Linked DNA regions of Homo sapiens. The protein of the gene in region 4 interacts with the protein of the main gene of each other region in a biochemical or structural test. Each region holds a gene or a part of one and is shown on either strand. Other genes may lie near its edges. The genes, in order: RPTOR, PLD1, RNF152 and RHEB.

The links.
Region 1: the proteins of RHEB (region 4) and RPTOR form a complex in vitro, tested with the Homo sapiens proteins (one study listed by BioGRID).
Region 2: the proteins of RHEB (region 4) and PLD1 form a complex in vitro, tested with the Homo sapiens proteins (one study listed by BioGRID).
Region 3: the proteins of RHEB (region 4) and RNF152 form a complex in vitro, tested with the Homo sapiens proteins (one study listed by BioGRID).

Annotation. Positions count from the first base shown.
Region 1 is NC_000017.11:80,918,833-80,925,856, forward strand, and holds part of RPTOR (regulatory-associated protein of mTOR), read left to right. Parts: intron 1-3,891; coding exon 3,892-3,995; intron 3,996-4,657; coding exon 4,658-4,841; intron 4,842-6,537; coding exon 6,538-6,648; intron 6,649-7,024. UniProt on the Homo sapiens protein: Component of the mechanistic target of rapamycin complex 1 (mTORC1), an evolutionarily conserved central nutrient sensor that stimulates anabolic reactions and macromolecule biosynthesis to promote cellular biomass generation and growth.
Region 2 is NC_000003.12:171,674,473-171,681,496, reverse strand, and holds part of PLD1 (phospholipase D1), read left to right. Parts: intron 1-3,802; coding exon 3,803-3,931; intron 3,932-4,663; coding exon 4,664-4,782; intron 4,783-6,883; coding exon 6,884-6,997; intron 6,998-7,024. UniProt on the Homo sapiens protein: Function as phospholipase selective for phosphatidylcholine. Implicated as a critical step in numerous cellular pathways, including signal transduction, membrane trafficking, and the regulation of mitosis.
Region 3 is NC_000018.10:61,883,001-61,890,024, reverse strand, and holds part of RNF152 (E3 ubiquitin-protein ligase RNF152), read left to right. Parts: intron 1-7,024. UniProt on the Homo sapiens protein: E3 ubiquitin-protein ligase that acts as a negative regulator of mTORC1 signaling by mediating ubiquitination of RagA/RRAGA and RHEB.
Region 4 is NC_000007.14:151,516,895-151,524,393, reverse strand, and holds the start of RHEB (GTP-binding protein Rheb), read left to right. Parts: upstream 1-4,498; 5' UTR 4,499-4,882; coding exon 4,883-4,934; intron 4,935-5,416; exon of another isoform or gene 5,417-5,634; intron 5,635-7,499. UniProt on the Homo sapiens protein: Small GTPase that acts as an allosteric activator of the canonical mTORC1 complex, an evolutionarily conserved central nutrient sensor that stimulates anabolic reactions and macromolecule biosynthesis to promote cellular biomass generation and growth.

The DNA.
Region 1 (7,024 bases), on a different chromosome or scaffold from region 4:
CTGTGTCCTGTGCCGCCCAGGTGCAGAGAGGGCTCCACACAGCCAGCTGCATCATCAGCACTCATGTCTATGTCGCCATCAGCTCCTTGGCCATCTCACCATCCTCTGTGGAAAAGGGGCCACAGCAACTCCAGAACCTCCCGAGCCTTCCCACACACCCGGGTCTGAGGAGGGAAGGAGCTGGTGGGCTGAGACACCTCGGCCTCCACTGACGCGGCGTTCTCTTCCCGCAGCGCCTAGGACTGAGGGCACCGTGGCCCCAAGTGAAATTCCTTAAGGCTTCCTTTGTAACTAATGGGCATCTTGTTAAGAGTCACCACGTTGCTTTAATGGAATAATACCTAGGACTTACTTTTCCAAAAGAAGAGTTCGTAGGATTTATCTAGGAAACGCAGTTTGCAGGAAAATGACTTGAAGAAATAGCAGCACACGCTTTTGCAGGGGTTTCTTCTCCCCCACCAAGCAGCCAGCGGCCTCTGCGCTATTCTTAGCCCAAAAGTGCCTCTGGATAATCCTCTGGGAATCCCTTTTTAAGAGTTTCTCACACATGAATCCAGATCCTCGATATAAAATTAACAGGAACATTTCTGAAATACTCCACTTCCTCCCAAGATAGAGCAGCCAGAAGCTGACGCTGGCATCCGCAGCCCTGACTGTGTCAAGATCCAGTGGGAAAATTCACTGTCCAAGTCTCTGAAATGTACGGTATTTTCATCTGCATTGGATCAGACGCCCCCGTGTCCTTGTGAGGTGGCGCTCCCGGAACAGGAGACAGGGTGGGTCTCATTCCAGTCCCCGCTTCAGCAGCTGCAACAGTCGGGGGTGGATAAAAGACACCTGCACCTCCATCTTCCAGGCGTGTTCATGTGCGCACTGGCCCAAGAGAGTGTCTGTGCTGAGCATTCGACTGTTAGCAAAGTCGTATCTGCCACCACCGAAGGTTGGCTTGGGGAGTGGAAGAAAGGCCCTGTCTTGTAGCCGGGACCTTGACCCTCTTACAGCTGCCGTCCTCTCTGGACGCAGACCTCCCTAGAGGGCATGTTTGCACACCCTTGACCTCTGCAGGCTGCGAGTGAGCCGGGGCTCTGGGGGTGTACATGCTGAGAAGGGCGCCGTGTCCTCCAGGCAGGCCTGGGCCCACAGAGGCTGTGCGGGCCGCACTCAGCCCTCCAGTTTGCATCTCCAAACCCAGCCTCTGCCATTGCCGTGCCCTCTCTGTTCACCCTTCCTGGTGCTGCGCTCTCTAAGATGGTGGCAGGGACCAGCAGAAAGGACTCTCCCTGGTCCTCTGCCTTTGCCCCTGCCCCAGCCAGCTCTGCAGCTCCTGCTCGCTGCGTACCCTGTCCTCACACCGACACCGCAGGCAGGCAGGTCTGCCAGGTCACCTCTGAGGGACACGCTACTCATGTTCACAATCTTGGCCCCACACCCAGCGCAATCAACGCTGAGTAAATGTTGAACAAATAAGAAGTGCACAGCTAAAGAAAGCTCCCTCCAGGCCAACCCCCTGTGGTCACTACACTAATGGGGGTGGGGGGGGCTCCTGATCCAGGTGTGTGTCTGTCTCACGAGATTTCCAGAAGTGGTGGAAAATTAGTTTTGTGACAGCAGCCCCAGGTACAAGCCATGTGAAAGCAGGATGGTCTCATCTTATAACCCCAGGGGCTGCGAGAATTCATGCCGAGGCCCGGATCAGTTCCCTGCCTGGAAGAGTGGGCAGAGCAGAGGGTTCGTCACCACGGCTCCATGCGGTACTCCCACGGGCGCTTCCGTGCAGGGTGGCAAGGCGGGAGCTGCACAGACCCCAGGCGGCTCAGCGTGACGTCCCAGGGCTCCTGAGTCACCGGCCCCAGCCCAGCAGCGCCTGAGCCTTTGTGCTCCGTGAGCGTCTGAGCATGTGTGGGTTTTGCTAAAGGCTTCATTTCAACTCCAGAAGTTTTCTGTCTTCCCCGTCACCTCCCACTGTTTTTCCAGACATTTTGAGAAGGCACATATAAAGTTCACAGTCGAAAACTTGCTTTTCTCTTTTTAGACTTTTGAAGGGATCATATGTCTGGCAGGTTCTGTGGGATGGTTGTATGTGTCTAGGGCTGGCCGAATAGTTTAATACCAAAACAAAACAAGCTCAGAAAGAACATGTATTACTCTTGTCATTTAAAAAATAGGAACGTTGCTTAAAGACAAGTTATGGTTCCATTTTCTTGCTATTTGCGTTTTGAAGGAAAGGACAATCTGGGAAGCGTGGGTGTTACATGAGTGAAGACTTCAGGATCGTTTTGTTTTCCTTGGTGTTCTGTTGGCTGAATTGCAGGTTCAAGGTTCCTAAATTCTAAGTGAATAATTAAAAGCATGAGACATTGCAGGCTCCACGCGGATGCGGACCTGAAGGACAGGGTTCTGTCTGGCTGGAGCGCAGCCTGGGATGGGCCGGCGCTCAGGGAATGGCTTGTGCCTGCGGGATCAGTGGGCACCTTCATGGAGCAGCTGGCCCCATCCTCCTGACACAGATGAGGTTGCCCCAGCACCATCAGGCCCCTTCTGAACGCGCACAGCCTCTGGAGTCCAGAACCCAGCGGGACCCGCATTCCCCCCACTGAGCAGTGTACTCAGAACAAAACCACCCCGAAGCACCTGGGCCCTCGCGAGGTCATGTCGGTGGCCGGGCAGCGCACGCCCTGCCTTGCGTGGTTTCTCACGGCTGCTCACTAACGCCGACAGCTGGTCTCCAGATCCACAGAAAACCCTGCTTTAAAAAATAAAAGCAAAACCTCTTGCCTCCTGAATGCCAGGGCTCAAGCTGGTACAAATCTTTTTCTGTGGTAGAATTTCAAGCCCTGCAGGTGTCTGTGGCAGGAGGCTCTCAGAGCCCAGGGTCTTGGCTTCATCCACAGACGGCTGGGTTGAAGGGGTGGTTTGGAGCCTCATGCTGCCCACTAGGCTGTGCCAGCTGTGCACCACCCTGCTCCCCACCCTCCGGGAGCAGCCATCCCCTTCCCCTGCCAGTGCGCCCCTCCCCAGGGCAGGTTTCAGCCATGTCTGCCCTGGAGATGAAGGTTCCCCGTCCATGCAGTGCACCCAGCACCACCTGCGTGCGCCCGTGGGAAAGGATGACCACAGCCCCTCGGCCAGGAGGATGTTAAGGGCGGTCTTGAGTTCCAGGCCCCGTCACAGTCCAGGCAGCAGAGCCCATTTTGCCACTGGAGAGAGCCCAAGCCCCCTGCAGTCATTCTCTGACAGTTTCTGTGGCCTCCTGAAGCACACGGGGGTGTAAACAGTGGCCTGCGTGGAGGCCTCAGGCTGCTGGTGGCTTTCCACCCCGTGCCCACCGGCCAGGTCCCGGGTGGATGAAGCACTCCCTGACCCTCCGTGAATGCCACATCGCCCGGCTCCGGAAAGAGCATGGCTGGTGGATTCTTCCCGGGCCTCAACTCGCAGCCTCTGACCCGAGAGCTGAGGTGTTGGGGAGAATTGGACTCAAGGCTGGGACAGTGTGGAGGCCCAGCCTCAGGCAAGGGGGAGGACACTGAGGCCGCCAGGAGCCGCCCCTCTGGCAGGGAAGGTGAGGAGGGTGGGCCGTCATCCATCTCAGAGGCTTCAGGCCCTGACCCCTCAGGAGCCTCAGGCAGAGCTTCCTCCCCAGACATCCCGGCTCACACGGCCACGCCAGGGCTAGCCCAGTGGATGCATGTCCAAGAGTAAAGAATACCACTTGAGCTTCAGGATTGCCTTTGCGGGGGATCCAGCTGGGGCCTTCCATTGGTGTTGGTGCTTCCTCGGCCAAAGGCCTTTTCTGTGATTCTGAAGCGGCTCCACGCCAGCCTCTGCTTCGTGTGGCGGCCTCCGCGGAGCACGTCCCGTCTGACCTTCACACCCCCATTCCTTTGCCCCTAGGCCACCGTGAACGCCCGGCCGCAGCGCGTCCTGGACACCTCCTCCCTCACGCAGTCGGCCCCCGCCAGCCCCACCAACAAGGGCGTGCACATCCACCAGGCGGGGTAAGTGCCGCCCGCTCAGCCTGCAGGTCCGTGGTGGTGACCGGGGCCCCACGGGCTGAGCTGTCCCTGAGCCGGCCTCCCCATCCTCCTCCTTCCCCGCCCTGTCTTGGCTTCGTCTCCTCCCCCCTCTCCAGCGGGCGTTCTTTCCCTCTCCCTCCCGGACACCCCGGTACCCGCCTGATCTGAGCCCTGCCTTGAGCTCTCCCCATCTTGAGGAACCCTTCATGTGCACATCATCTCAGCAAAAGTTGAATGAAGCCTGGTCTCTGTGGCCTTTCAGAGTTTGTAAGAGGGGATCTAGATCTCCAAATGGGTAACCAACAGGTGTTTGCACCTCAGGACGTGGCACTGCTGTGTGCTGAGCTCGCACATCCCGGCCCACTCGACTCTGAGCTGGGTTCGTCCTGTCCGCGCCACCTCCCAGGGTGCTGGAGTTCAATGAGGGACAACCCTGCCCCCTGCCAGGCGGGCAACCGAGCAGCATGGACTCGGCACCAGCAGCTGGGGTTCGGGAGCCATGATGGCATGCTGGGTGACTGAGGACACCCCGGGCCCTGGTGGCACCTGGGAGGGTGCAGGTGGCCCAGGAAGTTGTTCCATGTTCCCTCTCGAAGCCCCAGACTCTGCAGAGGATGCAGTGTTTGTTTTTCTTCCAATGGCAGGGGCTCCCCTCCGGCGTCCAGCACCAGCAGCTCCAGCCTGACCAACGATGTGGCCAAGCAGCCGGTCAGCCGAGACTTGCCTTCTGGCCGGCCGGGCACCACAGGCCCCGCTGGGGCGCAGTACACCCCTCACTCCCACCAGTTCCCCCGGACACGGAAGATGTTCGACAAGGGCCCAGAGCAGGTACGGGAGCCCGGCTGCCTGGTGATCTGGACACTGAGAGCGTTGCTTCTCAGATGGGGGCTCATGGCCTCAGCCTCAGGCTGCTCACATCACCATGGGATGGGGCAGGACCCACCCTGCCGTCCTGGGTCTGTGGGCCACTCTCTGCCTTTGCAGACCCGGGTGCTGGTCCTCACTCGTGCACCCCTCTGCCTGCACTCCTTAGGAGCACTGCTGGGTGTGTCCCGGTCCCTCTGCCTGCACTCTTTAGGAGCACTGCTGGGTGTGTCCCGGTTCTCCGCCCCTGGTTCTGGTTTCACCATTCTGGGCAGCTTCCATGTAACGAAACAGGAGCACGGAGTTACCTGGCTCTGCCCTTCCTGGGCACACAGCACTCTGCGTCCGCTTGGGGGCAGCTGCACTGCAGAGCATTTGTTCTGAATGTGTTGTCTTTTCTGTGAACATCCAAGTACGCTGCATAAATAGGTACACTCTCTTTGCCTTTAACTAAGTTGAAAAAGATATTTCTGGAGAGAGGAATGCCTGCTTTGTTTTGCCAGGGTTATGAGAGTGGTGTGAGGTGGCAGCTGGTCCGGAGACCTCGGCTGTCTCGTCCAGGTGCTGCCACTTTGTCAGTTGAGGGCACCTGGGCTCAAGAAGGTGGTTCAGGGCGCACCCAGCACACCCAGCTGCTCTGGGTGCTGACAGCATGATCATCTCAGCAATGAGTGGGGTCCGGGGCTCGCTTGGTAATCCAGTGATTTTAAAAGAAGTTAGCGGCCGCCTTGCAGGATGCCCTGGAGCAGGAACGGCCATGTTGGGGTAGAAGAGCTGTCACGGCAAGAGCGGACAGGTCCCCACAGGTGCTGCTCAGCCCCAGCCCACCTGGACTTTCCGTGTCTCGGCAGAGGAGGAGCGAGAATCACCACCGAGCCCCAAGTGCAGGGTCAGCCTCCTGGCCAGGCCCTGGGGAGCAATGCTACCGGCACGTGCAGCTCACCCACCCGACCCCCCGGGGTGGGGGGGATGCACCTCTCACTGCACCTGCCCTGAGATCATGGGGAGCTCCCTGTGCCAAGACACAGCGTGAGAGACGCCAGCAGGCCACATGGCGTGGCACAGGAGACCCCTGGTGCCCAGCCTCACTCCACAAGCACACACAGACTCTGACAGCCCTGGCCGCCACAGGTTCCACAACAGGAAACACCCAAAGCTCAGTCCTCCTCAGCTCCACATCCTCTTTCTCCAGTAGCTGGGAGCTCCAGCCGGCCTGCAAAGCTGTGCGCTCCGTCCAGGCCACTTCACATGGGAGTCCCCGCTCTCAGTCTGGTGTCACGGGGCCATCACAGGAGCTGTCCTGGAACCAAGCGGCAGAGGCTTTTTGGGGGTTGATAAACCAGCACACATGGACGCACGTGGCATTGTCTGAACAGTCAGTTAGAATTGACTTGGGAGCTGTGCTGGGTCGGCCCTGGGGATGGTGGGACCGACGTGGCTCACACTTCACAGCCCGGGCCCCTCAATCCCTGGCCAGACGTTCAGGGGTTCTTGGTCACCAGGATACGGAAGTGAGCAGAGCACAGAAGTGCCGTCCTTAGGGGCAGCCCGGTGCTCCCGGCAGCGCCTTTGTCCCCAGCTGCAGCTCTTTTGAGCTCAGGAGTGGCATGACTGACTGGTGTTTCTTTTTCCTTCCAACCCTCCTGCTTAAACCCTGAAGACTGCGGACGACGCGGACGATGCTGCTGGACACAAAAGTTTCATCTCCGCCACGGTGCAGACGGGGTTCTGCGACTGGAGCGCCCGCTATTTTGCCCAGCCCGTCATGAAGGTGCGCCCGGGGTGTGGGGTTCAGAGTAGAGTCCTAGCGAACATGTGTCTGTCCCACTTCTTTGAGCATAAACGCTCAAGGCTTGTGGCTGTGGGAGCGTCCCATTGTGGTCGTGGTAGTGATGGTCACGGTTGAGGTAGAACCGCAGAAGAAACAAACTTCACTTACCTTCCTGTCGCCAAACGAAAAGAGAAAACCTGCCTCGCTGGAGCTTCCCAGTGTGACAGGTGTCACTTTGCCTTAACTGACAGGGTCACCACAGGCCTTCCCACTCCCTAATGGTGAGGATCACTCGAGGCCCATCCCAAGGCCACGCTTGCGTGGCTCCGAGGTCTGGGGACTGTTAGACGCAGCCTGCTGCAGCCAATCCTAGCGC
Region 2 (7,024 bases), on a different chromosome or scaffold from region 4:
TTTTAGGTAGATACTACATCTTAAGACCCAGATATAGGAAATGCAAAAGTATTTATTTCGGCATCTCAGACTGAGTGTAGAATGTGGTAAATACATATAGGTCTATAATCTCTCATACAAAATCCTTGGAATCAGATTTCAGAAATCAGAAAGTTCTGGATTTTAGAAAGGTAATACAATACCTATACCCTCTACTATATTACACTCCCAGCAGGATCCAGGAAATACCTGGAATGTAGGCAAACCATTTATGTTTGTGCAACACCAAGTGGGATCAATAAAGATAATAAATAACCTCTTGTCAGTTCAGGTCAGATTTTGCTGACCTGTGAGTTATGAAATGAGCTGTGAAAATCAGCTATGAAAAAACATTTGAATTGTTAGAACTTTTGGAGTTTTGGAATTGTGGTTAAGGGCTGATTTGTGCAGATTGAGCTGGTGGGATATATCTGTAGCAGTTTACGGAGGACTTTGAAAATCAGACTGAGACATTGCACCTCTTCCATTAAATGTTGGAAAATCCCTAGGGGCAGGGAGCAATTAAGGGTGAGGCTTTATAGCGTTTATAGTAGAGACACAGGGAGTCTGACAAGGTTGTGTCAGTGAGTTCAAGAACGAAGTAAATGGGAGAAACTTTTTCCAAAAGCAGAATCAGCAGATTTTCATCATGATCTGGGAAGCCGTGGGGAGGTGGGTGGAGAAGTCAGCGAAGAATAAAGGAGCCAAAGGTGATTCCGAGGTTTGAGCTTGAGTTACTACACACAGACAGCAGAAATCTCAAGGAAAGACTTGATTTTATGGAATGATGATGATTTTAGTGTTAGACATAATTTTAAAGTTCTGGAGGGAACTAGGTAAACAATGTCAAGTGAGGCACTGGAAGTGACCTTAGATTTGGAGTCCAAAACAGAAGCCATCCTTGCAGGTGCACATTTTAGAAATTGTATAGAAAAAGACAGGAGAGGCCGGGTGTGGTGGCTCACGCCTGTAATCCCAGCACTTTGGGAGGCCGAGGCAGGCAGATCACGAGGTCAGGAGTTCGAGATGAGCCTGGCCAACATGGTGAAACCCTGTCTCTACTATCAAATACAAAAATTAGCAGGGCATGGTGGTGTGCGCCTGTAATCCCAGCTACTCGGGAGGCTGAGGCAGGAGAATTGCTTGAACACTTGGCCCTGGGAGGCAGAGGTTGCAGTGAGCCGAGATCGTGCCACTGCACTCCAGTCTCAAAAAAAAAAAAAAAAAAAAAAAAAAGAGGAAGAAAAAGAAAACAAAAAGACAGGAGAAAGGGGGAAACCTTGTTAGTGAGGAGGAGCTAGGAAAGAAGAACAAGGATAGGCTGGAGAAATGGTAGAAAAATGGAGACCTGGAAGCCGAGAGATGAGAATAGAAGGAGGAGGATGTGGCACGACCAGAGGACACCAGGCAAGGAACAAGAAGTCCCCCTTCTCATAAACTTTAGTAGCCAGAATCTGAGCCACTGACAGAGGAGGATGCAGAAAATTGGCCTGACAAATCTGTGCCAAAAGACAAGGCAGGTGCAATTATGAAATCATTTGGGAGCCAGATAGCAGCCTAACGAGACCCCCTTGGATCAGCATTGTTGATGCCATAAGTCCTCTCGACCACACTCATGTAATTCTGAGCTACTGTTTTCACAGGAACTAGTATTTGGCTCTATTGCCTTAATAGTTCATTTGTACTGAGGAGGAACCCTAATTTATGTGGAATAGTTTTTAGGCCATGGCTAAAAACAAAAACAAATTTGAATTATGAGCAGGTTGAATTCAATTAGTACCAAGATAATTTCCTGAGACTAAGAATTTCCTTTATTTTCCTTATCATAACTGGTTGTTAGGTGAAAGATAATTTTTAAATGAGTGTATATGTGTTTATGTAAAGCCTTAGCTTAGAGTTTTGCAGTTGATGAAAGCAAATTGTATATGTGTATTTTATATTTGAAATTTGAAATATTGTTTATCTCATTTTTCATCCCTTTTGTTTCTTTTCTCACCCTCTTTTCTTCTTTTAACAAAGTGCTATGTAAACAATAAAGAGCCTATAGATGAGCAAACAGACCTACCCGTACTTTGGCCTTTCAGTCTCATAAAGCAGGAAAATAAATCACTGGGAGAAGTCAATAGAAGTCTATTTTTAACATGATTTCATTTTGCTAATCTATGGCATTTTAAATCATTTTTCTTCTGTAGAAAACTTTAATAGCCTTTGAAAGGTTAATGATTCAGTTTGAGATAGAATATTAGCATTGTGTGTGGTGATTACATAAAAACATTTGTTCTGCAAATATTTATTGATTGCCTGGGTGCTTGGAGCTACTGGCAGTGAGAAGATTTGGTTCCCACTCCCAAAGAGTTTATAGACTGGTGAGGCATTGATGCGGGCAGGGGAGCATCCTGATACAATTGCGTCACAGAGTCAGAGGTGTTGGGGCAGTTGTTAGTGGGATGACAGCAGTGCTAGTGACTGCCTCTTCCTTATGGGGAGATGGCAGGTGATAGCTAATGTGGCTCTTGAAGGATGATTAGGATATCAGGCCAAGAGGGAGAAAGGAGCATTTCAGGTAGAAGTAATAATGTGCCAACTGCATGGAGACATGGCAGTCCACACCTGTTATAATACAGTGAAACACGTGATTTGCATGGGGCCTGGGGTTGGGTGGGGAAAAACAAGGACTAGAAAGATAGATTGGCACCAGTTTGGGAAGAGTCTTCTATGCACACTAAGCCCTTAGGACTTGAGCTTCCTATAGGCAGTATGTGAACCTTCCAGGGTTTTAAGCAAAGAGTGCATTTTACAAAGACAGTTCTGGGACAGTGTGTTGGTGGCAGGACCAGTGTAGTCCTCTCACTGGCTACTGCAAGCAGTACCATTTATTCATTCAACACATATTTTTGCATTCAGTGTCTATTTGTTAAATGCCTCTTTTGTGCCAAGTGCTGCGTTTGTGATTTGTAATTCTGCATCTTTTTACTTCATTGTCTTTGTATTTAGCCGTAAGTCAATGGTCTCGGCACAGTTATTTGTGAAATGCTATAGTAGATTGCTGCTTTTGCACCTATATCATAAGCTTTCATCTGTTGTTACCATATTTTTTATAAATGCCATCTATGATTTGAAGTATATAAATGTTAAAGCGCAACAGATTTTAGCTGTTATCTAGGCCAAATTCTTCATTTTACGCATAATGGATTTATGATCTAAAAAACTGAAGCTCAGTGTCACTTAGCTAATTAATTCCAGGGCTGGAACATGGGCTATCTGTAAATTTGAGGTTCTTGCTTTAATGCAAAAGAATTATGCATCAGGTGTGCACCATGTTGGTTGAGGAAAAAGAAGTGGCATGGTGTCTTTATTGCCCCTGCGTCTCAGGTTTCTCCACCTCTCCCCTCCCCGCCCTTCCCACTCTGCCCCTGAAAGCCCCCCACCAGCTTTACTGCTCTCATAGTGCCACCTTGTGAGTTCTTTATTCACAGTTAATTCTGTGATAGTTCTTCCAGTGATCTGGTAGGTGGTGGAAATAAGTTACTCAACTGCCTGAGAAGGTCAAATTTCATTGTTTAATGATGAATCTTGTTGTAGCCCTAACTGCCCACTAAAAGTAAACTTGTAAGGACTGTAAAACCTTGTTAGCCCACAGCCTGTAATAGAATGGACAGATGCCACCCTAGTTGTGTCTTAAGAAATTAAGAAGCTTTTAGGTGTTTAATAAATGAGAGTTGAGCCTCCCTTTCTGGGACTCACCTGAACCACAGTCTCTGAGGGGGTCTTGCTGCATTCACAGATACCGGGTCCATCCGTAGTTTACAGACAGGTGTGGGAGAGCTGCATGGGGAAACCAGATTCTGGCATGGAAAGGACTACTGCAATTTCGTCTTCAAAGACTGGGTTCAACTTGATAAACCTTTTGCTGGTGAGTATCATAATGGTGGGGTGCTGGTTATATTTTGTCTTTTACCTTTGAACATCTCAGCAAGTATACATGTGCATGATCTAAATGCCTTTTGTTTTGCTTCCGTTGATTTTTGAAAATTTTTTAAAACTTTGGAGACTAGATTTAGTCATTAGCATGTGCTTAAGGACTTTTTTTTCAGTTATAATAAGAAAAGAACATGAAATAGAGCTGAACTGTCTGAAAAATCCAGATTTTTATAGGCATATTTTGGGGGCAATAATCAGTAATTTTTCAGGAAATGGTAGGCTCCCTTTGATCATCTTCTATTCTGCTTATTTCCTGCATTTCCAGCGTTAGAATGGCATATTTTCAGGTTATCACTGGGTTTATATGTTTAAGAGGAGATAGAGATGGCATTGCCTGCCATTGTTTCAACAGGATAAAAAATAAAAAATATAATATCAAATACACAGCCTTAGATAATTTGTACCAACTCACATCTTGCCATGTCTAGTGATTATCTAATCCTAAGTGAAACGGAAACATATGTGGGGAAGTGCCTGGGAGACTATGTCCCTGAATGTGAAATCTGTTTCCCTTGATTATAAAAATGTTGTTCTATGCAAGCCAAGAAATATATACCTAGTGGGCACTAACCCACGTTTCCTTTTAGTTTCATAGTTGGAGTCAGAGAGACTTTGCCCCAACACTGAAGTTAATGACTGATCCTTGCCTGGTGCACCCGGGCAGATTTCATTGACAGGTACTCCACGCCCCGGATGCCCTGGCATGACATTGCCTCTGCAGTCCACGGGAAGGCGGCTCGTGATGTGGCACGTCACTTCATCCAGCGCTGGAACTTCACAAAAGTACTTGGATGTTGCTATCATGATTTATCCACATGAAGAGAGGCAGGCCTAACTAGAGAAGAGGTTTAGAGGAGGCTGGTAGCAAGAAGAGACTGTTGTGGCCACAACTGTGTCACTGCTCTGCTGTTGGCTGCATTGATGTCCGGGTGCCTGGGCATCTGGGCAAAAAAAAAGGGAAACATTCCCGAATGTCCACACCATAGACAATTCAGAGTGCCTAGGGACAGGTGCTGCTGTGTGGGTCCTGATTTTAACCTTGTTAACATCTTGGACACAGTGTTGACTAAGCATTTAGTAGCCTGGGCTCGGTAGTCATTTGCAGGGCTGTTATAGGGGGATAGGAGCCTGGTTTAGATGAGAGGGCTTGAGCTTTAAAGTCCCATCCAGTTGGATGGGACTGGAATTGCACTGGGTTTATATTGGTACAGGATTCTGAGAGCTGGTTCTGAGCAAACCAAGAAGTATTAAGAAGGTGGGGCCATTTTCCTTTTATCCAGATTGTGTCCTCATTACTTGTAAGAACTTGACATAACATTCAAACCTAACATTCATAAGTTAAGTACGTATCATTCAGGCCAGGCACGGTGGCCCACGACTGTAATCCTGGCACTTTGGGAGGCCTAGGCTGGTGGATCACCTGAGGTCAGGAGTTCGAGACCAGCCTGACCAACATGGTGAAAACCTGTCTCTACTAAAATACAAAAATTAGCTGGGCATGGTGGTGGGTGCCTGTAATCTCAACTGCTCTGGAGGCTGAGGCAGGAAAATCACTTGAATCCAGGAGGCGGAGTTTGCAGTGAGCTGAGAGGACTCCATTGTACTCCAGCCTAGGCAACAGAGCGAGACTCTGTCTCAAAAAAAAAAAAAAAAAGTACATATTCAGGTGTTATTAAAGTTTCACTTTATTTACTTGAAGGGATAATGAGTCATGATTCCCCTTGGTCGTTTGGAAAAAGAATTTAGTTTTATCAACCACTTAGAGTCTAACTTTGTTTTTCATTCACATAATGATTATAAAAATTTAGTGGACATTCTAATTGAAATTTTTTAACAAAAATTTAGGGGAGATGGATGAATAAACAAATGGGGTGTTACTTTTAACCTGCTATACTGGCAAAGATAAAAGTCTCTGCTGATACCTGTAGTTAGGTTTGGGGTGGTTTTTGTGGTGTGCTCATACATGCTACCCCAGGGAGGATAAATTTGTACAACACCAATAAGTCTTTTTTAAAGTATGCAATCTTTGATCCAGAAAAACTATTTCCGGGTATTCAAACTAAAGCCATAATCCAATAAGGTAATTTATTTTGATATGGCTTCTAATAATTCAAATAAAATTAGAAATAACAGAAATCCTTACTAATAGGAATTTATTAAACAAATGATTCTTTTATACCATTTTACTATGAAGTTATTAAAAATAATGATATCCCACTATATTGCTGTGACAAGATATCTAGAACATAATCAGTAAAAAATTAGTTTATAAAACAATAGTCTCATTTTTGCAATTATAAAGTTCTGTAACTACAGATTATATTTAACCTGTCTTTACAAATATAAAACAATATTTCCCCTACAAAAGGTAAAAACAGGACTGTGAGAAGTAGAAAACAAACACAAATAATCTGTAGCCCTTCACTTAGAAATGTCCACCATTAACATTTTTCTTTTTCTTTTTCAAATTAACCTGAATTTCTTTTCTTTTCTTTTTCTTTTTTTTTTTTTTTTTTTTGAGATGGAGATTCACTCTTGTCACCCAGGCTGTAGTGCAATGATGAAATCTCGACTCACTGCAACCTCTGCCTCCGAGGTTCAAGTGATTCTCCTGCCTCAGCCTCCCGAGTAGCTGGGATTACAGGCGCCCGCCACCATGCTTGGCTAATTTTTGTATTTTTAGTAGAGATGGGGGTTTCACCGTGTTGGCCAGGCTGATCTCGAACTCCTGACCTCAAGTGATCCCCGCTTCTTGGCCTCCCAAAGTGCTGGGATTACAGGCGTGAGCCACTGCACCTGGGCATGAATTTCTTTTATAATCACAAAGTAGGGAGAATGAATCTTTTTTCTCATTTGAATATTTTATCCTTTTTCTTTATTTTAGATTATGAAATCAAAATATCGGTCCCTTTCTTATCCTTTTCTGCTTCCAAAGTCTCAAACAACAGCCCATGAGTTGAGATATCAAGTGCCTGGGTCTGTCCATGCTAACGTACAGGTAAGTAAGTTCTGGCTTTTCTTTTTG
Region 3 (7,024 bases), on a different chromosome or scaffold from region 4:
TGGTCATCAAATAAAATAATTATAATCCTCTCTTTGCCTATTTCAAGTGCATGTTTACTCTGAAGTGAAAGGCCATTAGGTATTTTCAAGGCTGATTCTAGGAGGTTGTGAGCTTAGCATTATGTAATAGAGAGGTGTTACTTACAGACTTTCTCTTCCTCACCATCTGCCTCTTGTTTAAGGCTTCCTGAGTTTGTTTGGAACCGCCCAGGGTAGAAAAAGAGTGGCAATGGGCCTAGGGCCACCCAGGAGGTGGCCTCCTGCAGCAGAGACCACAGGGCAACAGATAAGATCTGAAGGGGGCAGGAATGTGTTTAGGGTAACCTTGGGTCACCCTTTTGTTACTTTGATGTTTAGAAAAAGCAATTTGGGCAAGAGGCTTTTTCTGGTCACAGGACTAGTAGAACACCCAGAGAGTTTAGGGACATTTGTGCTTCCATCAGCAACTGTATTGACTAGGAGGGTGGTGAGTTCTAAAGCCTTCCTTGCCTCACTCTCCCTAAAAAGAGTTGGATGCTATGGAATAGGCATTGCAAGGTGCTCTGGATTCAGCAGTTGGTGGCTTGCAGAGATTTTGCTTTGGGAAGAGCTGTTCACTCATATATCTTTGTTCACATTGTGATAACGGCATGCACGGGTGAGCCATTTTAAAGATTTGATAAATACCTTAAGCATAAGTGTAGAATTTAACAAAATAATATTGCTTTTGGTTCAGTAATCACCTTGGCAAAGTCATTTTTATAAAGATAGCTCTCCAAATAAGGAAGTGGTGTGGTAAACTATGTTAGTCTCCAAGTCACAGTGACTGAGGGGATATCAGTATCAACCTAGGGAGGTTGAGACCACCCGGCTTCATTCAAGTGATAAGATGTAGCACCCAAAGCGTTTCTGAATTGGGAGATGAGCAGCTTGGAGACCAGCAGGAAGAACCAGATATAGACCATCCAAAAACCCATTCAGGGTGCCTGGGGTTGGGCTGAGGGCCAGGCACAGACTGAGGGAGAAGGAAAATGAAAGCCCCGAGGGACTAGTCTTGAACTATATTTGGGAAGCCCCAAAATGCATTTCTATATTTTCTCTGGCCTCTGGGTCCCTACCACTTTAATTTCATACCCAAGTCGGCTGGTCAGGTAGAGGACTCTTGTGGCATGAAAGTGGTTTCTGGCACTGCCCATTGTGACGTCATGGAAACCGGAAAGGAAGAAGGTGTTGGTTTTCCTGCTTCTTTTCCCATGGCTTCGAGAGTTACACTGTGTGATCCAGCAGTCTGACTCCATGATTGAAATCACAATTGGGATAAAGTTGGTAGAGATGCTTCTTAATTTACAGTGGGGTTATATCCTCATAAACCCCTCATAAGTTAAAAATATTGTAAGTGGAAAATGCATTTAATACACCTACTGACATCATAGCTCAGCCTTGTCTGCCTTAACTGTGCCCAGAAATGCGCATTAGCCTACAATGGGGGCAAAATCATGTAACAAGAAGCCTATTTTGTATTAAAGCATCAAATATCTCATGTAGTTTATTGAATACTGTATTGAAAGTGAAAAACAGATTGGTCGTATAGGCACTCAAAGTACGGTTTCTACTGAATGTGTATTGTTTTCACACCATTGTAAAGTCAAAAAATCAAAGGTCATAGGTCAAACAGTTGTAAGTAGGGAACCGTCTGTGCTTGTTACATGCTTAGGGATTTTCAATTTCTAATTGACTCACTGTCATTGTAGGATTTAAAGAGGGAGACCTCAAATAGTGTATCTGTGACCTGCATCTCCTTTGGGTGGTTCTTGATGTCCATGATTTCTTGGCCTAGATCACGTTTGGCTGCTAAGGCCTGGACTACGTTCTTCGTGGAGTTGTGAGGGGGCTGCTTGTGATCGCCTAGGAGTGGAGAGGATGCCTTATTTACCCCTTGATATACTAATGCCTGCATAAATAAAACTCATTGCAAACATCCTGCATGATGAAACTTACTCAAACATCACATAGACTTCCTGGTTACCTGCCTTTCATGCAAAGGAGGGGCTGAGCAAATGAAGATGTGCTGCTGGTGGGAGCAAAGTTATGAGGAAGTAGAATCTCCAAATGCTGTGTTCTGTGCTTGTATTTTCTCTTTCTACAACCTCCTCTCCCCTGCCACTATCGCATTCCCACCTACCAAGGAAGTGTAACTTTCCCGGCTCAGTTCTGATCTAGACATCCAGATAATCACACTTGGTGCACTCCTCACTGAGGTTTGACAAGAATTGAAGAGATTTTGGTAAAAGCTTTGACAGATACTGTAGAAATAGGGAGCATTCTTTTTTTTTTTTTTTTTTTTGAGATGGAGTCTCACTCTGTCACCCAGGCTGGAGTGCAGTGGGGCATGATCTCAGCTCACTGTAACCTCTGCCTCCTGGGTTCAAACTATTCTCCTGCCTCAGCCTCTCGAGTAGCTGGGATTACTGGGATAATTTTTTCTATTTTTAGTAGAGACAGGGTTTCATCATGTTGGCCAGGCTGGTCTTGAACTCCTGACCTCGTGATCCACCCGCCTTGGGCTCCCAAAATGCTGGAATTACAGGCGTGAGCCACCGCACCTAGCCAGGAGCATTCTTCTTACTATTGCTGTTTCTGCTCCTTGACAGATTCACTTAGTGACAGTTGCCACTGCCGCATCTTAGTCAAGAACCTTGTTTCTCTCTGGGCTATGACAATGGTCTTGCTCACTTTCTGGCTTTCCCACCCCACTCCAGTTTGGAAAATGCTGTCACTCTTAGACCATTAGGCCAATTAATCCTTCATCCCCTCACTTAATAACTTTTAGTTGCCCTTGTGGGAGGAAGCTCATATTCTTCAGTTTTGCTTTTCAAGTTTTCCCCAGGTTGACCCCAAACTTCCTTTCCAACCTCGACTTTTGCTCCGCCTGACTTTAAAACTGAACATTAGCTGGGATGGTTAATCCACTGTTGCCCAAAATGTTTTTCATTGCCTCTTTCTTATTCTAGCACATTCTGTGGCCTAAAATGTCCTCTTCCTTCCTCTGCCTCTATCCTATCATCGAAGCCTCAGTTCAGCTCTCAACTCTTCTGAAAAATTTAACTTGATCACATTAGCCTTTAGAAATTCTTTATAATCCAAAGTTCTCTGGCAAAATTGCCTCCATCTCTCATTTCATTCAACATTCATTCATTCATTCTACAAAGGCCACTTGTCATAGATTGTCTTGTATTATCACCTACGATTGAAGTGTCTTTTTCTTTCTGTTTAATTGCAAAGAATAGAAATTCACTCAAGCTTGTTTGCATAAAGGGAGGTGAATTGAAGAGATGTCCCAGGATGTCTTGTCATCAAGCCACATTTCCCAAGAGTTCCAGTGAATGGGACCCTTCCAGTTATCATTCACCCTGGACCTGCTTAGTGCAGGAGAGGGTTGGGGGCACAGTTCCTTCCAAGGGGGCCTGTGGCTGGCTGATGTAGCAGTTGTGACCTGCAATTAGCCTACAATGGGGGCAAAATCATGTAACAAAAAGCCTATTTTGTATTAAAGCATCAAATATCTCATGTAGTTTATTGAATACTGTATTGAAAGTGAAAAACAGATTGGTTGTATAGGCACTCAAAGAGATCTCAGTTCTCTTGCAAGCTCCTTAAAGATGACTGGATGAGGCTTTACACCATTGTGTGTTTGCCACCGTGTTTGTACACAGGAAGGGCTCAATAAACAAATCATTGGTGACTCTTTGACAACACAGAAAACGATTTTGACTTACAGTGATTTAAAGGAATTTTAGACCCTTTTAGCTTGAAGTCTTAAAGGAAGTTAAGAAGATAGAAACTTATTTTTAAGAGCTTCCCCTACTTGCATTAATAATGATTAAATGTTGAATCAAATTAGAATGACCAGGCTGCAGTACGTATACCAATGTTTGGGAGGTGAATGTTCTCAATGAGGGTCATGATTCTAACAAAATTAGTTGTTACTCAAAGCCTGTTTTTCAACTTCCATTTGCCTCCTACTTTGCCCACAAAAAAAAAAAAAAAAAAAAAAAAAAAAGAAAGCAAAAGAAAGCAAAAGAAAAAAAACCTCTACTTGGTGACATACAACAAGCAGCTTTAGGACTTTACAGCCTACCAGACCACCCCACAATCTAACGGAGCAGGCATTGATGCCTGGATTTGTGATGACTGGGTGTAGTTGCCCACCGCTGACTGCCCCACCTGCGTTTATAATTAAAGGCTTCAATACCTTTGTGATATACATCTGTTTTACCTCCCTTTTTTTGATTTTGGAATACTCATTCACATGATAGAAACTCTTCTTTGATACTCAAAATGCTTGATCATTATGAGAGTGTTATTATGAAAGAGGGAAATATGTTCAGCTGCTTGAAGAAAATGACCAGAAATACATTAATATTAAAATAACGCTCTCGGCTGGGCGTGGTGGCTCACGCCTGTAATTCCAGCACTTTGGGAGGCTGAGGCGGGTGGATTACTTGAGGTCAGGAGTTTGAGACCAGCCTGGCCAACATGGTGAAATCCCATCTCTACTAAAAATACAAAAATTATCCAAGCATGATGGTGTGCACCTGTAATCCCAGCTACTTGGGAGGCTGAGGCAGGAGAATTGCCTGAACCTGGGAGGCAGAAGTTGCAGTGAGTTGAGATCGCACCACTGCACTCCAGCCTGGGCAAAAGACCGAGGCTCTGTCTCAAACAAACAAACAAAACACTCTCAGTTTGAAAGGTAGTGAATAGGGCTGAGATAAGTGTCTCAGGAACCAAGTATTTGTTGTGATATTCTTTTGCAGTTGTGTTGTTCTGGGGTAGGTTTGCAAATTGCTTCCTCGAAGATTAATAATATGAGATTAGAAGTGGTTGGTGAGCACATGGACAAATTTGTGTACTTTGGAGAATTTACCCCTTTTGTTGCATGAGACATAAGATTACTGCCATTTTAAGTGAGTAATAGTTAATTCAACCATGCAGGTAAAGAGGTGTCCTTAACTGGGATAAATAGTCCATCCACTCCACTCCTTTACATTGGTACTTCAGAAACTGAAGGTACAGATCCATCCATTCACCTATGGTGGTGTGTAAAATAGCATTTGAAACACTGAGCATCAGGTATTTAAACCACTTATTAGGCAAACAATTGCATTCATTAAATGTATTTTGAATGGCCAGGCATGGTGACTCACGCCTGTAATCCCAGCACTTTGGGAGGCTGAGGCAGGCAGATCACCTGAAGTCAGGAGTTCAAGACCAGCCTGGCCAACATGGAGAAACCCCGTCTCTACTAAAAGATACAAATTAGGCAGGCATGGTGGTGGGCACCTGTAATCCTAGCTACTCTGGAGGCTGAGGCAGGAAGAATTGCTTGAACCTGAGAGGTGGAGGTTGCAGTGAGCTGAGATTGTGCCACTGCACTCCAGCCTGGGCGACAGAATGAGACTGTCTCAAACAAACAAACAAACAAAAGAATGTTGAATGCCTATGTTTTACCAGGCATAATTCTAAAAAAATCCCTGCCTTCTAGCTTCCTGTAGGTATTTAACTCATAATTAATTTGGTTTTCTGCTTTTTTTTTTTTTTGTAATGGCAAAGCTAAAAGGGTAGAGAATAAAAGAAATGTATCTGATATTCTCTCAATTCTTGATACCTTAGCATATATGCCTGCCTTACATGGCTCTAATTCAGGTAAGTCATTATGAACTGGAATTTTAAAAAGTAAGATGGGTTTGGGTTTAAATTTCACGTCTGCCACGTGACCTGAGTGCACAAGGTCTGACTGAGTTTGTTCTTCAGCTGCAAAATGGGGGAGAACCGACCTCATTGAGTTAGTGTAAGAACAGGAGAGACTTACATATAAAGTGCTTAGTGTGTTGCCCTCCACAATGTAAGACTAAATAAATGGCAGCTGTTGCTAACGTCCTTATATCCAGCATCTACCATCCACCAATCATTGGGCTCAGTTCTGGAAATATCGGGATGAATAGGCATGGTCTAACCTGAAGAAGCCCTTAAGCTAGCCAAGGAGGTGATGGCATCCAAGTAACTACAGCCTTCAGCGTTTACATGGGAGTTTCTTTTACCTGTCATTATTGTCAGAGTCTTTGGTTTGAAAGTCTGTAAAGCTTTCAGTGGCTCTGAGTTTAAAATGATAGGCCTTCTCAGGAGGAAGTGGGGAAAAAGCTGGAAGCAACTGGAGGAGAGGAGTCTGAGAAAGGGTTCTGAGCTAGCCCCCAGGCAACCTGAGTCTTCCTTAAAGGAGATGAGTCGCCTTTCTCCTGTGGCCTCACTCTTCCCAAGTGAAATGAAGGACATCCTCTTTCTCAGGGTCTGCTTTCTTGGGAGTAGAGTGACCCCCAGACTTGCCCATGACTAAGAGCATACCTGGGTCATGGAACTTTCCGTTTTAAAACAGTCCCAGAAAAATTGGGATGAGCTGGTCACCCTCCAGTCTTGTTCTGTGATTGTTGTTTGACATCCTGAAGCAGGCTTTGTAGAGATCTAACATTGTTAGTAGAGATACAACCATCCTACAAGAGAGGAGCAAGCGGGGCAGAATAAAATGGGAAAAAACATTGTAGCCTTGTCAACCCCTTTATTTAGGAATCTGCTTTTTGGAATGGGATATTTATTATTATTAAAAAGAAGAGAACTGTTTAATAAAGGCAAGGAATCTAGGCTATACAATATAAATATAAAGTTAATGAAACCTTTTAGAAATTCTTCTTAAAAAGGGGTAGCCGCTTGGGGCCCGGTACACAGTAGACACTCAGTAAAGACTTATTGAAATGGTGGCATCAATTTATTCTTCAGAAATATTTTTGAAAGCTGCATAGAGAAGTGCAAGAGGCCTCTGAGACATGCATTCCAGGACAGGTTGAGGGGCTGAACACTGTGGGCTTTGAACCAGTCTGCGCCTCACTCTTCTGGGCCCTTCCATCACTCATTTGAAAATGCATGCATCTAGATATGCTCTGGGTTTCCTGTGCTGGTATCTGAGTGTGTTTATGTATGAGCTGATGCTCTT
Region 4 (7,499 bases):
GTGTGTTCTGCTCCAACCATTTTGCCTGGCCACTGCTACCAGCAACCTCAGGAGATTGCTGGGCTTGGCAGCCTGCTGCTGGTGAAGGCTCCTACTAGGAACATCCTGGTCTTGGGGATGGGAGAAGCCAACTTCATTCACAGCCCAGCAGAAACCAGATTTGAACTTTTAATGAAACTTTCTTGAAAATTTGAGGACAGTTAATGTGTTAGTTTCCTATAGCTGCCATAACAAAGTGCCGCAAACTGGGTGGCTTAAAACAAGATAAATTTGTTCACAGTTCTGGAAGCCGGAAGCCGGAAATCAGTGTCAGAAGGGCCGTGTTCCCTCTGAAGTCACTAGGAATGGACATTTCCTTGCCTCTTCCAGGTTCAGGTAGCCCCAGGAGTTCCTTAGCTTAAGACGTCACTCCAGTCTCCACCTTGGTCTTCACGTTGACCATCTCTTGCATGTCTGTGTCTCTTCTTATGAAGATACTAGTCATACTGGATTGGCCTACCCTACTCCAATATGATCTCATCTCAACTAATTACATCTGCAATGGCCTATTTCCAAATAAGGTCACATTCTGAAAGGGTAGGACTTCAACATATCTTTTGGCGGGGGACAAATTCAACCTGTAACAATTGAGAACAGTTGAGAACAATTTACAACTACTGTATAACCCCAGACCTGTCCTCAGAGTTCTTTGCTGAGCCAGCCCTCTCTCAAACATGCCCTACCTGCATGGCCTTAGGGCTGGCTTACTCCACATTCCCTCTTCTGGGAGGACTCCATGCAACTCCATACCTCAGAGTTCAGACCAAACTGATCCCGTATGTCAGAGAGGGCAGGATTTACCTTCCTCCCAGTGAAATTCAGGGAATTCACCTTTCCCAGGATGGCTTTCATCCTACAACGCTGCGGACAGGACAGTCAACTCCCCACCAAGGAAACCCCTCTTCCATCCACAAAGGACCTGCCCCTTTGACTCCAATAAGATGACCACATAATAGAATAACCTTTGCATGCATTGTTTGATTTGGAATGACACCAGTGTGAGACATAACAGTTCAGTCTGATTTGGCTTATGCCAAGATCAAGAGGATTCTGGTTCTTCTCCATTCTTCCCTCATCAAATATTTTTAAAAACCAAACCAAACCACAAAACTCCTTAATGTCTACTTTCATTGGGGTCACCCTTTTCCACATAAAAGAATGTCCTTTTGGTAAAAACAATCACAGCAGTGGTTTTTTACTCTGACCTTGGTGTAACCCAGTGGTAGGGGGAAAAGGTTTTGTATGTTATCTCTGGTACTTAAAACAAATATGTTGGAACTAGAAATCAGATACTGGGCTTGGAAGTGCTCATGGAAAGTTAATACAAACCCCATAATATCAGATGTCCAAATTTCAAAGAACTTCCATAACCACCAGCCGTCAGAGGTGTAGGTCAGCAGAGACCCCTCTGGACAATCTACATGCTTAGCATGAGCTCCTCACTCAAGGGATGATGGGAATTAACAGAACCGATGATGTTCTCTCTCTGGGAACTTAACAGAAGACACATAGTTCTTAGTTCGCAGGGAAAGGGAACAGAAGTGGAAGTACACACAGAGAGAAGGCAGCAGGCTGAGGACTCGAGCACTCCCGAACAAGCAGGACCTGCTGAGGAGAAGCTGACTGGTGGCAGCAGACCTTCCAGCTGCTGCAAAGTCAAAGGTGACTGAGTTAGCCACCAATAAGGGAGCTACTTTGAATACAAAAGCAAGTCCATTTCTTCCAACACTGTTGCTGTCTGGTTGCAGTCAGGTATTTCCATGTGAATTCAGACAATGAGTCCCTACTATTTTAGGTAATCTGAGCCATTTCTTTTTTTTTTTTTTTTTTTAAGACAAGGTCTCACTTTGTCACCCAGGCTGAAGTGCAGTGGCACCATCTCAGCTCACTGCGGCCTCGACCTCCTGGGGTCAAGTGATCCTCCCACCTCAGCCCTCCACGTAGCTGGGACTACAGGCAGGTTCCACCACGCCCGGCTTTTTTTTTGTATTTCTTTGTAGAAACAGCTTTTCTCCATGTTCCCCAGGCTGGCTAAGTCACTTTTCAAACCAAACAAATTCTCCCCACTCTAGAATAAAGGAATCTTCTAAACCTTTGGATCCTACATTAAAGGGCTTGAAGACAGCAACTGGAAAACTTTTTTTTTTTTTTTTTTGAGACAGAGTCTCACTGTTTTGCCCAGGCTGGAGTGCAGTGGCGCTATCTGAGTTCACTGCAACCTCGCCTTCCAGTTTCAAGCAATTCTCCTGCCTCAGCCTCCTGAGTAGCTAGGATTACAGGCATGTGCCACCACGCCTGGCTAATTTTTGTATTTTTAGTAAAGACGGGGTTTCACCATGTTGGCCAGGCTGGTCTGGAACTCCTGACCTCGTGATCCGCCTGCCTCGACCTCCCAAAGTGCTGGGATTACAGGTGTGAACCACCGCGCCCAGCCTGGAAAACTTTTTGAATGAATTTGTCCTTTACAACTGTGCTTCACATCTGGATTACCAATATTCTCAGGCTAGGGCAGTGCTTTCAAACTTTTTGAAGCAACCCACTGTAAGAAACTTTACAATGAGGCCGGGCACGGTGGCTCACGCCTGTAATCCCAGCACTTTGGGAGGCCGAGGCGGGCGGGTCATGAGGTCGAGAGGTCGAGACCATCCTGGCCAGTATGGTGAAACCCTATCTCTACTAAAAATACAAAAATTAGCCAGGCGTCGTGGCGGGCGCCTGTGGTCCCAGCTACTCGGGAGGCTGAGGCAGGAGAATGGCGCGAACCCGGAAGGCGGAGCTTGCAGTGAGCCGAGATTGCGCCACTGCACTCCAGCCTGGGCGACAGAGAGAGACTCCGTCTCAAAAAAAAAAAAGAAAGAAACTACAGTAAATCCCAACATGCAATAATACATATATAGCATATCTATAAACATATATATCTACACGTGCACTTACACAAACTTACCCTTACTCATTTTTTTAACTCACCACTGTACTAATGAGGACACATACTTACCCTTACTATGCATAACGCAGTTTTCTATTCTGTTCTATTTTTTTTAAAAAAAGGTAAAACTAAACTGATTTTATAATGCAAGGAATTTAGTAGCATCTGTTCAAAAACACCGTGGTGAGGGTATCCGAATCCACAGGATAAAAACGACACATTTTACAGGAGAGTGCATTTTAAGACCTTTATTTTAAAATACTTAAAATAACTATAGCGTAAACCTCAACATTTCATGGAAACATAGAACTTCCAGACATTGATCACTTCTGGCTGGCTGCCTGGGGCTTCCATCTGTAGATCCCCGAGGACAAGAATGCACACCCCAGCCCCTCATCGGAGTGCTTCCGTGGGAAAGCTGGAGGGAGTCGCTCTTGGGTTGGGTGTTCCAAGTCGACTCCAGTCACCTCTAAACCTTCCTACGCTGGAATACAAGGCCTGCCACTCAGCTTCCCCTGGCTTCATTCCTCCCCACCGATCACTGGCAAAGGGCGAAGGGCCATGCCCGGCCTCTGCAGGTCCCCACTGCCAAACAGCCTGGGCAGAATAGGGGCGGGTTCCCCGGCGCGGCGGAGTCTCTGCTAACTCGGCAAGTGCCAAGCCCTCCAGCAGCCACCACGCCGGGCCTGCCTGCAGGCTGGTCCCTCAACGGCACCTGCGTTCCCGGCCGGGCTTCCCTTCCCGCGCCCCTCTGCACTGCACCCCTGGGAAGGCTGTGCCCACACCACGGTCTCCGCCCGTCCACACCGCGGCCCGAGGCGTTCCTGGCACCCGGCTCGGGCCTGCCCGCCGCACCAGCCGCCCCGGTGCTGGCGGAGAACCGGCTTCCCGCCCCGGCGCTGTTCCAGGAGGTGCGCCGAGCTCCGCGCGAAGCGAAGCGGACACCAGAACTGACGAGGCTCGCCCTGTTTTTAATGAAATTCCTAACACTTTGAATTAACGCAGACTCCATGCTTCCCACAGTCCTTCGGCCGTCGGTGACGCTTAGTCACCACTACATCCTCAAACCCAGACACGAACGCTAACGCAGCTCAAGGAGAATTTTCAAAAAACCCCGAGGGAGGAGCCAGCCCACCCGCCCAGGCCACGCGCCTCGCGCCCTTCACGGGCTCAGCGGGCGCGAACCCGCCAACCGCTTAGCGTTTCGCCAATCACCGCACCTCCCACCTATTGCCCCGCCCTGCGCTCCGTTCTGGCCAATCACCAGGGAGCCACCGTTTGTCTCTCCGCCTCTCCCGCCCGCCCCTAACCGGTTGGAAGTTTGAAGCCTTCAAACCTAGCCGGCGCCCAACAGCGCGGTAGCAGCGAGGTGTATTTTTAGCTCCCGGGCGGGCAGCCCCGCCCCCCCCTCCCCGCCTCCTTGTTTCCCCCAATGGGAGATGGAGTTTCCGACACGTCATCGCGCGGCTGTGCAGGAGCTGTCCAATCGGCGCTCGGGGAGAATGGCGTAATTAAAAAGCGGCGGAAGAAGGTGGGAGGGTCATGACGCAGCGAGTTTCAGTCGTGACTTTTCTGGGGGCATCGCGGCGTCCCCTTTTTTTGCCTTTAAAGTAAAACGTCGCCCCGACGCACCCCCCGCGTATTTCGGGGGGCGGAGGCGGCGGGCCACGGCGCGAAGAGGGGCGGTGCTGACGCCGGCCGGTCACGTGGGCGTGTTGTGGGGGGGAGGGGCGCCGCCGCGCGGTCGGTTCCGGGCGGTTGGGAGCGCGCGAGCTAGCGAGCGAGAGGCAGCCGCGCCCGCCGCCGCCCCTGCTCTGTATGCCGCTCTCTCCCGGCGCGGCCGCCGCCGATCACAGCAGCAGGAGCCACCGCCGCCGCGGTTGATGTGGTTGGGCCGGGGCTGAGGAGGCCGCCAAGATGCCGCAGTCCAAGTCCCGGAAGATCGCGATCCTGGGCTACCGGTCTGTGGGTGAGTGGCCGGTGGCCGCGCGGCCTCCTCGCGCCGCCGGGGCCTCGCCTGGGAGCCGGGTCGCGGCCGGGCCTGCGAAGTTTGGAGCCGGCGCGGCCATGTGGCGGGGCGGGCGGGGGCCGCGCGTTTCGTAACCACCATTCTGAGCGGAGGTGGTGGCGGTCGGGGCGGCGTCCGCGCCGGTGGAGGAGCCGCGGTAGCTGGGCGCCCTCCGCGGGCCGGGCGGGCAGGTGGCGGCCGGGCGGAGGGCGTGGGAGGCGCGGGGCGGGGGCCGTCGGCCGCCGAGGAGTCCGGGTCTCGTCTGGGGAAGTGAGGCGGCGCCGGGGAGCCGCGCTAGAGGCTGCCGCGAGGGAGTCACACCTGCCTCCCCGCCTTCGCCGCGGGCGCGCGTGACCGGGGCTGGCGGTCTCCCCCACCCCGCCCCCGATGTAAGGAAAAGAAAGTCCGTGGGATTTTAACAAAGGAAGCAGCGCCTCGGCTTCATTCCATCTGTGGTGAAGTTTACCCTTGTAAAGAAAACTAGGGATTTAGAGGACGTTTGGGCACTGAACGCAAGTTTTCTGCATAGGAAACCTAGGCGATCCCCCAAAAGAGGTCCCTCTGGAGGCCCTCGAGATGCTGCTGGCGGCCTGGGTAGGAAGACAGAGAAAAAGGAATGTCTGATCTCTCGGTGCCCTATTTTTGTTCGGGAAGGAATAAGGTCAGGTACTTGCAACCAGGCTGTTGAAGTAATTCCAAAGTCTTTTTGTTTTCTTTTTCTTCCCCCAAAAGGTTGACATACATTTGAAACAGTTCCTAGCAGTCGCCTTATTGCTGAATAAGGTGGCTTAGGGTCGGGTTGGGGGGCGGACGGGGTGTTACAGAACGAGCGGTTTTCTGGCCTGTGTGAAACCAGAGCGATTGAACTTAGACACGCTTCAGGGTGAGGCTGTATTGTCTCCCGACATCCGGAAGCCTGGAGAAATTAGTTCATCTTTTCGGGCTGTTTTGAAGTAACTGTCTATAGAAGGCGTGCACCGGGCCACAGTTGAGGGGATGGGGAGGTGAAAGCGAGGGTTCCGAGGCTCCCGTGATTGCGGAACGGGGTGACTATCTGTCATGGGAAGCTTGTACCTGCCTGCCGCTCACTGGATGCACTCCCCAACTGCGCTTTCCACCGCCTGTGCCAGGGTCTGTGCTCTTTGACCAAGATCAGCCACTGCATGCTTACTCATCCTTTTACCACCTCTCCGTCGAGAGCCGGGGGGAAATTAAGGGCTGAAAGAAGCTTGGCTAGAGATGCGGGGTGCCTAGAGTCGTAGGGGAACTCTTGTGCGATGCGGTGCTGAATCCGAGGGGATGCATAGGTGGCAGCTTTAACAGCTGCAGCCAGGAAGTAACCATGAATCAAATGGAGGGGTTCAAAGTCACTAATTGTTCAAATATCAACATGGAACCTGGGATCCAGCCTTTATTGGCAGCCTGAATCCATGCTCTTGTCTCTGTTCTCTTGATTTCCTCCTCTGCATTTTGAGGAGTTGGGACCGCGAGGTGTTCTGGCTCTTGGGTGAGCCTTCCCTAGTCAGTCAAGTAAGTACTTATTGGCAACTATTTGGAAATAGTAGTCCCTGAATAATCACGTTATAGGCAACAAGTACCTCGGCTACCTGATTTCAACCCAAGAGAATGACCTAAAGATCTTGACTGATTTACCCTTTTCAAATGTCGAAATGGTAGCTCTAGTCTTTGGTGAGCAGGGCTAGTTTTATCACTTTTTTTTTTTTTTTTTTGGCTACAGAAGTTCCTTATGTCCAGTTGAAATCCATTCTGTTTTATCTTCCCTCTATTCAGCGTCCTCCTGAGGACGGAGATGTGACAGGCCACCCCTTAGCCTTGTCCTCACAAACTGTTGCTTGTTAAATACTGTGCTAACTTAGTCTCCGGTGGGATACAGGGTCACTTTTAGTCCCTATTTTCTGTCTTCAGTATTTCATATTTCTGCAACCTACCCCACTTCTCCATATTTATTTTCAAGCGTAGTCATATTAAACGATTTTGGAGAGGTTAAGTTGCTCCCAATCTTGTATTTGATTTTTTTTTTTTTTTTTTTCCGAGACGGAGTTTCGCTCTTGTGACCCAGGCTGGAGTGCAATGGCGCGATCTCGGCTCACTGCATCCTCCACGCCCCGGACTCAAGCGATTCTCCTGCCTCAGCCTCCAGAGTAGCTGGCACTACAGGCGTGCACCACTATGCCCGGCTAATTTTGTATTTTTAGTAGAGACGGGTTTCACCACTTGGCCAAACGTCAGGCTTGTCTCAAACGCCTGACCTCAGGTGGTCCTCCCACCTTGGCCTCCCAAAGTGCTGGGATTATAGGCGTGAGCCACCATGCCCAGCCGCATTTGATTTTAAAGTGTATTATGAGCCAGGATATTTTGTAGTATGTGGGGTCTTTTTTAGGGGAAGGAGATTAGGTTTTGCCAGCAGGTTTCTTCTAGTAAGCCACCCTTTTGAGAATTACTCAGCATGCTCACTTCTGGGAGCTTACTGGCATGTTTGCTTGCAAATGGTGGTGCTGTACCAGA